2 linked regions of the Homo sapiens genome follow. The protein of the gene in region 2 interacts with the protein of the main gene of each other region in a pairwise test. Each region holds a gene or a part of one and is shown on either strand. Other genes may lie near its edges.

Region 1 (7,417 bases), on a different chromosome or scaffold from region 2:
GCTCCTTGAGAAGCTAGAACACATAAAGACCCGTGCCTATAGGAAATATTTCTTTCTTTTTTTTTTTTGGAGACAGAGTCTGTCTCCGTCGCCCAGGCTGGAGTGCAGTGGTGCGATCTTGGCTCACTGCAAGCTCCGCCTCCTGGGCTTCCGCCATTCTCCTGCCTCAGCCTCCGGAGTAGCTGGGACTACGGGTGCTTGCCTACACGCCTGGAGAATTTTTTTTTTTTTTGTATTTTTGGTGGAGACGGGGTTTCACCGTGTTAACCAGTATGGTCTCGATCTCCTAACCTCGTGATCCGCCCACCTCGGTCTCCCAAAGTGCTGGGATTACAGGCGTGAGCCACCGCGCATGGCCAACTATAGGAAATGTTTCTAAAGAGATCTAAAATTGACAGTCAAAAGGTTATTATGAAAGGCTGGACTTAAATTTTTTCCCCGTAGATACTAGGAAATACACAACTTATTAAGTTAAAGTCTACGCTTACACTTAAGTCACATTTTTTAAAAAGCCACTAAAATCCCATGCTTTAATGATATTAGTACACAATTCAAAACACTGTACCACGGTATCCCCTCACTGGTACTCAGAACACAAATGAAACACATCTTGATAAAGTAAATACCTTCCTATTTGGAATGTGCAAGACATAATTTACTAAGTTGATTCTTTTCAACTATTAGGGACTGAATTTTATTCTCAAAGAGATGATCACAGAACATGAGAATTAAACAAACCTTCCTATAAAAGAAATGGATGCTTTTATTCAACCTGAGTTAAAACCACAATGAATCATATCAGAGTTCATGGGAATCATAATAAATGACTAGTAAACCACTCACAAAATCAAAGCTATCAACATACTAGGATCACACACATTAATTAGTGCTATAGTTCAAAACATACCCTTTAACTTATTTAGCACGCAAAATAATCATAAAAGTAATGTCTATAAGCTCTAACCAAAAATTTTAAAAATTAAAAATAGCACAATTCTACAATTCTGATTTTACCAAGAAAATAAACCTTTTTTGGCACATATTATCCTATGAAAATGGAAAGCTGAGTCAGGCTGCTCTGCTTTTCACAGCACAAATAAGCATTCATGCTATCAGACTTGGGAAATTAACTCGGTGACAAAAATTCACTGGAAAATAGAATCCTTGGAAAAATGGGGTCAGGTGCCATCCACTGTGAGGCAATGATAATGTGTGTCCTTCGTTATTAGCACAAAGTTAGGCAGCACACTATAATTTTAGCTACATGCAACTCTATAGGAACACATGTGGGTAAGGCCTGAAAGTTACAAGCAAGAGTGAAAAGAACTGCTGTGTTGGGACTGAGGAATGATGGGTGTTTGTTTTTCTTTAAATGTCATTTCACCTTTTAAAGGAAAATAAATCAAGTAGGTAGGTAAAAATTACTGAACTAAAGAGATACTAAAGATCAGAAGACTGGCCAATTGAGAAAATCAAGTTTCATGATTAAGAGTGACTCAGGAAGGATGTCTTAGTTATGAGGGGGGTGGTGGAAGACAGTTTATATCTTTGGGTATTTATGGCAGGTCAGAATTAAAGATTTAACTTTTTCCCTTACTCTTTACATAAAAAGCTGGTTTATCTGAAAAAAGTATCAATCTAGACTTGGCAATAAAGTGGCACTTAGGCACTATATTATTGATATCTACAATGACCTCCTGGATGCACAAGAGACCCTGAAGGGCTTTTTTGATCAGCAAAACAAAAACAGAAAAGCAAAAAACAGTTAATTTTTGTTTGGTCAAGTTTACTCAACCAGACCACCTTGATACCAACAATGCTGGAGAGCATTTGGCAAGAGCAGGGCCACAATGCCAAATTCCTTGGAAAGGTAGACTTCCTATGATACTTTCATGGATTGGCAAATTTGTGGGGTTTTTTTGGTAGTAGCTTTTGAGAATGTTAGTTTCTGGCTGGGGTAGTGACTTACATCTGTAATCCCAGCACTTCGGGAGGCGAAGGCAGGTGGATTGCTTGTGCCCAGGAGTTTGAGACCAGCCTGGGTAACATGGTGAGACCCCATCTCTATTTTTATAAAATTAAAAAAAAAAAAAAAGATAGAGAATGTTACTTTCCTATAAAGCCATGATACCCTAAGTACTAAGACATGTCTGTTGTTGTCCTTTCCTTCATAACATTTCTCATAACCCGTAATTTACTTCTCATCTGTCTCCCCTAAAAGGGCAGGGGCCTTGTCTATTCTGTTCATTACCATATACCCAGCACTTAATAATGTCTGGTACATGTAAGTGTTCAACAAATATTAGTTGAATGAATAAATGAAGTATGAATGAATCTCATACAGCTCAACAGACCTGGGGGAAAAGTGAAGACAAACAAACAAACAAACAAAAAAAAAAACAAAACCCTAAAAAATACTTAAGGAAGACAGATAAGCAACAGTTCTATCAGTTGGGGTTATGAGACTTGATGCCAAAAAATTTACCATCATTCACAACTGACAATGGTTGTTCAGAGATTCAAAATATCTGAAAGATTTCAACTGAAAGTTAATATAAAACAGTGTTCTCTGGAAGACTCATGTACAAATAAGTTAATTAAGGGCCTGTTACTAAACCAAGATACAACAGGAGCCTAATGTTTTGTTTGTTTCAAGATGGAGGAGACTCTGCTGCATACACTTGGAGGTCTAGATTTCCATAGAGGGCACGTAGCATATTGAGGACCTTTTCTTGAATAGTGTCAACTTGGTCAGAAGGACAGTAATCATCCAGACTTGACCTAGAACCAACAGAAAGAGAAAGAAGAAAAATACACATAGGATAAAATCATACTGTGAGGAAAAGCTGCATGTGTTCATTTCAATGTAAAACAGAAATTAAGGTGTGCTGAACTTTGGATTAATATCAATTGAAAGCTAGTGAAGGTTTACCCCATGTTAGTCACCTTACATAAATTATGTTCTTTAATTTTCACAGCAACTCTATGAAATAGGCACAATTACTATCCCTTTAAAGAAATCTGAAAGAGATTAACCTGTGCAAGGTGACATGCGGTGTGTGCCTTAATGCTTGATTGCTAGACCATTGTTTGCCTGAAAGTGAGATGTTGCTTGGGAATACAGGGGCTTATTATCTTAGCGATGGAACATCTTTTATTATGTGTGTGCTAGGGCTAGAAATGATGAGGGTCGAGGTTTTCCAACTGATAAAAGGATCCTATTTCTAAAAATGATTTGTTAACTACAAAATTATAAAGGATCCATGGCTTGGTCCAAAATGAAATGTGGCGATGTGCTGGTGTTGGATTTACTTTCCTAGGCAGTAGGAAGCAGAAAAGAGCAAAGTAGGTTGGGGCAGATATCTGTATTTTGGGAGTCTTTCCAGAACTTACCAACTGCAACCTGAGTTGCACTGGGCAGTTACAATGCTGCTGCCAGTTACAACTGGATTAACCAGTGTCTCCTGGTTCCGGATAAGGGTGAATAAAGCCTTCTAGAGGACAGAGTGAGAAGAGCAGCACAGAAATCTTTATAGAAGAACTGGAATTAGTTATCTGGCCTACTCCTTAGTACAAGTATTTCAAACCTAAAGAGATAATCTGTAAGACCACTGATAAACTCATTTTACGCTCTAGTGACCAGGTTATTTACCTACAGAGATTGTATTAGTTTCCTACTGCTGCTATAAAAAATCACCACAAACTTAGTAGCTTAAAGCAACACTAATTTATTATATAGTTTTGGAGGTCAGAAGTCCTAAAATAAAGGTGCTGACAGGGCTGCATTCTTTTTGTAAGATCCCAGGGATAATCTGTCCCCTGGCCTTTTCTAGCTTCTAAAGGCTGCCTGTGTTCCTTAGCTTGTGGCCTCCACCTTCAAAGCCCGAAGTGTAGAATTTTCGAATCACTCTCTCTGATTCTGACCCTCCTGCCTTTCTCTTCTAATGACCCTTGTGATTACACTGGGCCCACCTGATAAATCCAGGATAATCTCATCTCAAAATCCTTGAGTTAATCACACTGCGAATTTCCTTTTGCCATATAATGTAACATATTCACAGGTTCCAGAGATTAGGATGTGCACATCTCTGATTTGCCATTATTCTGCTGAACACACTTACCTTGCAATTGTCACAAGAGTAGGATTTGGTAAATTTTTCAGCAAATAATGCACAGATTGAATAAGACACTCTATTTCTTGTTCTGTGCTGATATGGTGAGGAAGTTCTGAATAATCGCAGGTTAAACCAGCCTGGTGAACCTGAAAATAAGACAATTAAAAATTACACTGTATGACAGTTGTTTTTATAAGCTTCTTTAATCATTAATGGCCTTATTGACAAATCTTTACTTTTATTGATACATAAAAGATGTGCATATTTTCAGGGTACATGTGATTCATAATAGCATATAAAGATCAAATCAGGGTAACTGGGATATCCAACACCTTAAATATGAAAAACTTTTAATTTTTAATATTTTTATGCATTGGGATTATTTTTTCCTTAACAGTTTCTATGTCATAAAAGTTATCTGCTCTCTGAAGTGTTGGTAGAACTCGCCTATATGCCTGTCTGGGCCAGATGCCTCTTTTTAGAATAATTCTTTAACTACTTCATTGGGCTTGGGTCAATTTTGGTAATTCACATTTTCTATCAAATTATCCATTTCATCTAGATTCTAAAAAGTTGAGGCCAGGCGTGGTAGCTCATGCCTGTAATCCCAGCACTTTGGGAGGCTGAGACAGGCGGATCACCTGAGGTCGGGAGTTGGAGACCAGCCTGACCAACATGGAGAAACCCCGTCTCTACTAAAAATACAAAATTAGCCGGGCGTGGTGGCACATGCCTATAATCCCAGCTTCTCCTGCTAAGGCAGGAGAATCACTTGAACACGGGAGGCAGAGGTTACAGTGAGCCAAGATCGTGCCATTGCACTCCAGCCTGGGCAACAAGAGCGAAACTCCGTCTCAAAAAGAAAAAAAAAAATTGTACATATTCTTATCTCATTTTTAACACATTATTTTACTTACTTTTTAAATATTAATATGTGCACCTAGTACTACATTCAAAGCTTTGAGAGGATACAAGAGAAAATATTTATCCTACCTTATTTAACCAAACTGTTTTCTTGTGTATCCTTTATGTATAACCATAAGCTACTGCTATCTACCTATGTGTTTTAAATTTGAATGGAATATGTTCTAGTCTTAGCACTACACTAAACTTGCCTGAAAGTTAGAAGTGGCTCACATGCTACCATTCTGCAACCTTAACTTTAATGTTTTGAAAACTGGAACTTAACTATGTCATAGTTTTGCCTAGAGTACGCAAGTGCAAAGTATGAAAAAACACACTAATCAAATATTTTATTGGAGGCTTTGGATACACATCAACAATTTAACTGGCAATGATCAGTCAGTGTGATAAAAGGATGAATTCTGGATGTTCATTTTGCCAAAATGATAAAACTATTTAGCGTTCTATCTCTGCAGCTGTAGGGCATATCATAATGGATTACATAATCTGTGACTGAGCCCTAGCCATTCCCTGCCCCCCAAAAAACATCAAACCCACCCAACGAAAAAAACCCAGATGCAATGTAATGATTAAAGCAGACCTGCCTGCAGACATATTTGATAATATTGTATGAATTCAAAGCATTTTCTTTCTCTTTTTAAATTTGACACAAAGTCTCACTCTGTTGCCCAGGCTGGAGTCCAATGGCAGGATCTCAACTCATTGTAACCACCCAGGCTCAAGCAATCCTCCTGCCTCAGCCTCTCAAGTAGCTGGGACTACAGGTGTGCACCACCACACCTGGCTAATTTTTGTATTTTTTGTAGAGATGGGGTTTTGCCATGTTGCCCAGGCTGGTCTCAAATTCCTGGGCTCAAGCGATTTACCTGCCTTGGCCTCCCAAAGTGCTGGGATTACAGGTATGAGCCACTGCTCCTGGCCTCAAAACATTTTCAAACCTTAAGTATCTTATAACGATCTTCTTAATTACCATTTTTAAAAAGTGTAAGTCTTGGAAGTGTTTATTCAGGGCAATTTGAATATATGCTCCCAGGGGAAAAAAAAAAAAGTTAAACAAAAAAGTTTAAGTCTTGGATTTGCTTAGGTTTCACCAAAATATTCTTTTGCTTTGCTCATTATATGGTTTGGCTGTATCTCCACCCAAATCTCACCTTGAATTGTAACTCCCACAATTTCCATGTGTCATGGGAGAAACCTGGTGGGAGGTGACTGTGGGGGTGGGTCTTTCCTGCACTGTTCTCATGATAGCGAATGAGTATCAGGAGATCTGACAGTTTTATTTATTTACTTTTTTTGAGACAGAGTTTCACTCTTTTTGCCCAGGCTGGAGTACAATGGCATGATCTTGGCTCACTGCAAACTCCACCTCCTGGGTTCAAGCGATTCTCTTGCCTCAGCCTCCCGAGTAGCTGGGATTACAGGGATGCGCCACCACGCCCGGCTAATTTTGTGTTTTTCATAGAGATGGGGTTTCTCCATGCTGGTCAGGCTGGTCTCGAACTCCCGATCTCAGGTGATCTGCTCGCTTCGGCCTCCCAAAATGCTGGGATTACAGATGTGAGCCACTATGCCCGGCTGGAGATCTGATGGTTTTAAAAACACAAGTCTCGCTGCACAAGCTCTCTCTTCTTGTCTGCTGCCATGTGAGATGTGCCTTTCACCTTCTGCCATGATTGTGAGGCCTCTCCAATCATGTGGAACACTAAGTCCATTAAATCTCTTTCTTTTGTAAATTGCCCAGTCTTGGGTATGTCTTTATCAGCAGCGTGAAAACAGACTAATACAGTAAATTGGTACCAGTAGAGTGGAGCACTGTTGAAAAGATACCTGAAAATGTGGAAGCAACTTTGGAACTGGCAGAGGTTGGAACAGTTTGGAGGGCTCAGAAGAAGGCAGGGAAATGTTGGACAGTTTGGAACTTCCTAGAGACTTGTTGAATGGCTTGGACCAAAATGCTGATAATGACATGGACAATGAAATCCAGGCTGAGGTGGTCTCAGATGGAGATGAAGAACTTGCTGGGAACTGGAACAAAGGTGACTCTTGTTATATTTTAGCAAAGAGACTGGTGGCATTTTGCCCCTGCCCTAGAGATGTGTGGAACTTTGAAGTTGAGAGATGATTTAGCATATCTGGTGGAAGAAACTGCCAAGCAGCAAAGCATTCAAGAGGTGACATGGGTGCTGTTAAAGGCATCCAGTTTTTTTTTTTTTTGAAATGGAGTCTCGCTCTGTCACCCAAGCTGGAGTGCAGTGGTACCATCTCGGCTCACTGCAGCCTTTGCCTCTCAGGTTCAAGCGATTCTCTGCCTTAACCTCCTGAGTAGCTAGGATTACAGGTGTGCACTGCCACACCCAGCTAAGTTTTGTATTTTTAGT
Region 2 (6,013 bases):
TTTGAAGCCGGGAGGTGGAGGTTGCAGTGGGTCGAGATCATGCCACTGCACTCCAGCCTGGGCGGCAGAGCAAGACTCCATCTCAAAAAAAAAAGAAAGAGTTGGGGGTATTACATAGGAAGTGATCAGCAGATAATGAATGAAACTCCACTGTTTATTCTGGAAGACACTGGCAGGCTGCTGACCTCCCCGTCACAGTGGAACGATGCTAGAACCAGCAGTCGTGTGTGTGTGTGTTGGAGGAGGCGCCATAGGAGGCTCAGGGATGGCAAACACAGTGCCCTGAGCACCGTGCCTCGCAGGGGAGTTGGGCTCAGTGGTAACTGCTGCCGTTTCCCCACCCACCTGCCTCCTGGACATCTGTTCCTAGATATCCCTCTGCCACCCAACCCCATCATTTTCTCCAAAACCCTGTCCTTCCTATGTGTTAGACATCAGAGAATGATGCCACCTTGTCCCTCTAGCCACTATGTCCCCGCCACAACCTTGGGAGTCATCCTGGACTTTCCTTCTCTCGTCACACTCACTCACTCTGCCGCCATGTCTCCTCTGTCTCTCTCACCCTCTGCCATCTCTACCCCAACAGCCCTGTCCTGGCTGTGACTTTGTCTTCATCCAGATTATGGCTCACACCGCAGTTCCTCAAAAGCACAGGGTGACTTTGTCCTTTCACTCCTTGTAGCTCCCAGGATCCATCCAAACACCCAGAACCCTCCCACCTGTCCCTCCTCTCTCCCTCACCTGCCAGGGGACGGACAGCTGCCCTGAGCCTTCACACAGTGTTCCTCTACTCAGAAGTGCCTGTCCCCACTTCTCTGCCCTGCAGTCTGTCATCTGGATCGAGGCCATCAGATAACCTGAGTGTCACTCCTCCTGGATGGTACTTACATGTCCTTTGCCAAGAGGAGCAGCCAGAATAAAATCACCAGTTCCTAGGCTCTTAGGCTCCACCCGGCCCTGAACAGCTGGCTTGTCTTGGAGTCTCTTGTGCCACCCTCCCCAGGAACAGTGGCTTCCTTGTATTGGCGCCAGCGATGATGGGCCAGCTCTGTGCTAAGTACTTAACTTACCATTCCTGGTGTCAGCCCCACAAGTCTCCTCTGAGATAGCAACCTTATTTCGACTTTTTTTTTTTTTTTTTTTTTGAGACGGAGTCTTGCTCTGTTGCCCAGGCTGGAGTGCAATGGTGCGATCTCGGCTCACTGCAGTCTCCGCCTCTTGGGTTCAGGTGAGTCTCCTGCCTCAGCCTCCTGAGTAGCTGGGGTTACGGGTGCCTGCCACTATGGCCAGCTAATTTTTGTATTTTTAGTAGAGATGGGGTTTCACCGTGTTGGTCAGGCTGGTCTCGAACTCCTGACCTCGTGATCCGCCCGCCTCAGCCTCCCAAAGTCCTGGGATTACAAGTGTGAGCCACCACACCTGGCCTTTTTTTTTTCTTTTTTTTTTTTTATGCAGGGTTTCATCCTGTTGCCTAGGCTGGAGTGCAGTGCCTGGATCATAACTCTGGATCATCACTGAAACCTGAAACTCCTGGGCTCAAGCGATCCTCCCATCTCAGCCTCCCAAGTAGCTGGGACTACAGGCCTGCACCACCATGCCTGGCTAATTTTTAATTTTTTTTTTTTAGAGATGAGGCCTCACTATGTTGCCCAGGCTGGTATCCAGGTCCTGGCATCAAGTAATCCTCTCACCTTAGCTTCCCAAAGTGCTGGCTGGGATCACAGGTGTGAGCCACCATGCCTGGCCTTGTCTCTGTTTTATAGACGAGGAAACTGTGGCACAAAGAGCTTAAATAACCTGCCCAGGTCACGCAGTAAGTGAGAGAGATGGGGTTAGAGCCTCGTCTCACCCCTTCCATCCAGAGTGGGACAGGGAATTGTCCTCCTGCATCAGGACTGAGGGCCTCGTCCCTCAAGGGCAGAGGCCCCGGGACCACGGTGCAAGTCCCAGACCCTCTTTCCGGCCTGCTTTCTAGAGCATTGAGCTGGGGCGCTGCGTGGTTTCCTCAAACCACTGACATCTGCCACTCCCCACAGGCTCATCCACCTGCAGACATGGGGCGCAGAAAGTCAAAACGAAAGCCGCCTCCCAAGAAGAAGATGACAGGCACCCTCGAGACCCAGTTCACCTGCCCCTTCTGCAACCACGAGAAATCCTGTGATGTGAAAATGTGAGTGGGGAACAGGGCAAGGGATCCAGCCTCCCCACTGCCTCTTCCCCGCTGTTCTCCATCCTGCCCCTTGCCTCCCTTGGTGAAGGCGTCATCACCCACAGGCCCAGGACGCATTGCTCACCAGTCCCTTCTCTTGGTCTGTTTCAGGGACCGTGCCCGCAACACCGGAGTCATCTCTTGTACCGTGTGCCTAGAGGAATTCCAGACGCCCATAACGTGTATCCTTGGAAACCTGGGCTTTTTCCAGAGGGTGGGGAGGGGGCTGGAGTCCGGACCCTGCTCATCTGGCCCACTGTGTGCCCTGGTGCAGGGCCAAAGCCGTCCAGAGGAACAGGTGCCACCTAGTGATTTCTGTGGGGTGAGAAGATGCAGGGCAGGGTTCCAATGCCAATGATCGCCCTTGACCTAAGTGGCCCAGATCTGTCAGAACCCGTGGATGTGTACAGTGATTGGATAGACGCCTGCGAGGCGGCCAATCAGTAGCGACACAGAGGACCCGCCCCCTGAGCAGCCCCGCGTACTGTGGATCCAGCTGTTCGGTTCTGGTCCAGAGACATTCCAGGGGTCCAGGGTGTGGGTCCTGGGCTGTCACAGCCGTGTGTGTGTGTGTGTGTGTGTGTGTGTGTGTGTGTGTGTGTGTGTGTGTAGTGGGTGTGCGTGTGGGTGTGGGTGTGAGTGAGTGTGGGTGTGTGTGGCTGCACGTGTCACTGGGGTGGCCGTGAGTGTGTGCTCACAGGTACGCGGTGGTGTCGGGTTCCTGGGCCTGAGGGGCCTGAACTGATCTCACTTGGCTCCGAAAGCCTTTGCTGTGTTCCCTGCAGCCCCTGGCCCCCCAGCCTTGGGGCTCTGGCTCCCCCCGGCGGAATTGGGGGACTGTTTCCTGACATCCTGGACAAGGGAAGCCCACTAGAGGCTGGAACAGGACCTCTCCAGCCTCCTCACCAGCACCGTGCCCATCTCAACTGGACTTCCCGCTCTCCTTCTCCACCTTCTAGTGCCCGTGGCCGGGGATTCAAAGCCGCCGTTCCCCAGGTCCCTGGGCTGGGCCCTGACAGGGAGCCGCCCCCCTCCCCATGGTAACCAGGAAGCCCGTTTCATGTTCAGTTGCTTTTGTAGAGGAAGCAAGGGCTGGGATGGGGACAGCTGTCAATCACAAGCCCTTAAATAAAGCAGCCAGCGCACATCCCTTGCTGTCCGTGATGTCTTGGGTTCTGCGTCTGCCTGGTCACCAGAAGAAGGAGAGGGGACCTGAGGCTCTGACGTTCGGGAGGTGGCCTGGTGGCCCATGTGACCAGCCCTTCAAACCACCCAGCGTTTTATTCAGTCAGTAAGCATTCAGGGTGGTGGAGCAGGCAGACATCTGGCCAGGTGTTTACAGCAGTCACAATAGGAAATGGGGGAGGTGAGACAGAACAGGTGGTCAGAGGAGGCTTCTGGGAGGGGCAGGCTGAGACAGTGACACCGTAGGGCCACCTCTAGCCAGACGCTGACCTCTGGCCTTCCTGCGTCGCCCCAGTGTCCTGACAGCCACTTTGTGGGGCAGGTGCCAAGCTAACCCCAAGTTCAAAGATGAGGAAACAGAGGCTAGAGGTGAAGGAGGTCACTGGCCCAAGACCCTACAGCCAGAAAGTGGCACAGGGGGGATTTGAACCCAGGAAACGAGGCTCCACAGCTTACAGTCTGACTTCTTGTGAGCCCAGAGTCCAGGCTGAGGGAACAGCTTACAGGCCGTTCTGGAGGTAGTGAGTGGAAGAGGGACACGGGAGGGAAACATGAAAGGGGCCTTTATTCAAGGGTGGTGAGGACTCTCAGAAGGCTGGTGTTGGGGCGGGATGTGTGTGGCCGATGGGGAGCACCTGAGGGCTGATGTCCCCTTAGCTGGTCGCACCGGTGACAAGGACCACAACACCCAGCAACCTGGGGCAGTGCCAGACCCTCCACCTGGCCTCATGAGCCCGGGTGGCAGGTGACCTGTGCTTCAGAGTCCTCGTTGCTACAGTGCAGGGGATGAAAGCACCTTCTTCCCGGAGCCATGCTGAGGATGGAAGTGCCAGGCATGGTTTGAGCGGCTCTGGGGCCCACCCAGGGCACTGACGGATGTGAACAGCGGGGGGAGACATTGAGCTGGCCCGGAAGCCCTGGCTGCCAGACTGGGCTGCTGGGTCTGGCCTGTGCACCCCCTCAGGCCCACTCTGCCATGACATGTCTTCCCTGGTTATCCCGCCACCTCCAAGATCCCAGGTAAGGTCTGCTAGCCCTGGCAGGAGCCGGCACACATGCGCAGAGTGGTGGACAGGCACCTAGGTTTAGGGTGATGGCCCTCTGGGATCCAGCAAAAAGGGGGCTCATTCCTCTGGCACCCGAGGCCCTTCCTGCCGCCCGCCCACCCCAGCCTCACAGGCTAAGTGCTAATATGGTGCTGTTTTCCCGAGGAGGCAGGGCCCTGGGCCAGGCCCGGATCCTCCTCAGCATAGCTTCCCCGCGCCGGCCCAGGGGGAGCAGGACTTGCGGTAGCCAGGCCAAAAGCGCCTGGAATCCGGTTTACGAGGCCCCAGGGGCTGCGTGCGTCTGTGCGCGGGTCTTCTGGTGTCTGCCTCCGCAGGTCTCCACGTTCCAGCCTCAACTCCTGCCCTCCCTGGGGAGAAGACAGCTCCGTGCCGCGCTCCTCGCTTCTCTGCCTCCTCTCCTCCTTGGAATCCTGATGGTTGGGGACCTCTCCCTCCTCCCGGGGATAACAGGGTCCCCTCTGAAATGTGAGGAGGTTGAGGCCCTGGACACAGCCTTTTAGAGTCCCGGGTTGGCAGGCTCAGCCTTAAGACGGCTGAGAGCGGGCGGGGCGCACAGAATTAACCGTGCCCTATGGTGCCCTGTGCCAGTCAGTAAAGGGCCATTGCCTTGGCTCAGAAGTGCCCCTCTCCCTGTCCCCTTTCCCCTCCCCACAGTCTGGGGCTAAAGGGTTCACCCTGCCCACAGGGCCCACCAGGACCCCTACTTGTCATCCTTTCTCTATTGATGCCTGGTCTTTACCAGCGATTAAACATGTAGAACATCACCCCATCTGGGGGTGTCATTTCATGACCACAAGAGGCTTACTGTCCCCATTATTTTGATGGGAAAACAGGTCTAGGGAGGGAAAGTGATTGCCCGAGGTCATCCAGGCAGCTGCTCTGTGATTCACATGCCATTTAGCCTGTCCCAGTACTCAGGCTCTTTGTCACCACCATCCACAAGCCTCTGGGAGAGCAGTGTGGGTCGTGTGTGTGTGTGTGTGTGTGTGTGTGTGTGTGTGTGCACGCGCGCGCGCATTGGCTCTCTGGCTGTGCCTTTTTTTTTTTTTTTTTTTTTTGAGATGGAGTCTTGCTCTGTTGCCCAGGCTGGAATGCAGTGGCGCCATCTCAGCTCACTACAGCCTAGATCTCCAGGGCTCAAGTGATTCTCCTACCTCAGCCTCCCAAGTAGCCGGGACTACAGGCATGCGCCACCACACCCTGCTAATTTTTGTATTTTTAGTAGAAACAAGGTTTCACCATGTTGGCCAGTCTGGTCTCGAACTCCTGACCTCAAGTGATCCTCCCATCTCAGCCTCCCAAAGTGCTGGGATTACCGGCATGAGCCACTGTGCCCGGCTGGCTATGCCTTTTTTACATGTCGTAGGGAGTGTGTACTGCCTGTGTGTGCATATCTGTGTGTGAAAGGGGGGAGTGTGTGTGTGTGTGTGGACTTTGCATGTGAGTGTGATGGGGTGCCTGTCCTGTGTCTAGCTGAGTGGCTACAGTGAGGTGTGTGTCTTAGGGTGCGTGTGAGTGTGTATGTACGTCTTAGGGTGCATGTGGGCATGTG

What was found. Proteins that work in one complex are often made in the same cells at the same time.
Region 1: the proteins of ELOF1 (region 2) and C5orf22 interact in binary tests that used the Homo sapiens proteins (3 or more experiments, as listed by UniProt).

What each region holds. Positions count from the first base shown.
Region 1 is NC_000005.10:31,548,137-31,555,553, reverse strand, and holds the end of C5orf22 (UPF0489 protein C5orf22), read right to left. Parts: intron 7,065-7,417; coding exon of another isoform or gene 6,867-7,064; intron 4,262-6,866; coding exon 4,122-4,261; intron 2,782-4,121; coding exon 2,652-2,781; 3' UTR 501-2,651; downstream 1-500.
Region 2 is NC_000019.10:11,550,389-11,556,401, reverse strand, and holds the end of ELOF1 (transcription elongation factor 1 homolog), read left to right. Parts: intron 1-826; exon of another isoform or gene 827-1,057; intron 1,058-1,148; exon of another isoform or gene 1,149-1,228; intron 1,229-2,036; 5' UTR 2,037-2,054; coding exon 2,055-2,170; intron 2,171-2,320; coding exon 2,321-2,391; intron 2,392-2,591; coding exon 2,592-2,656; 3' UTR 2,657-3,356; downstream 3,357-6,013. UniProt on the Homo sapiens protein: Factor involved in transcription-coupled nucleotide excision repair (TC-NER), a mechanism that rapidly removes RNA polymerase II-blocking lesions from the transcribed strand of active genes.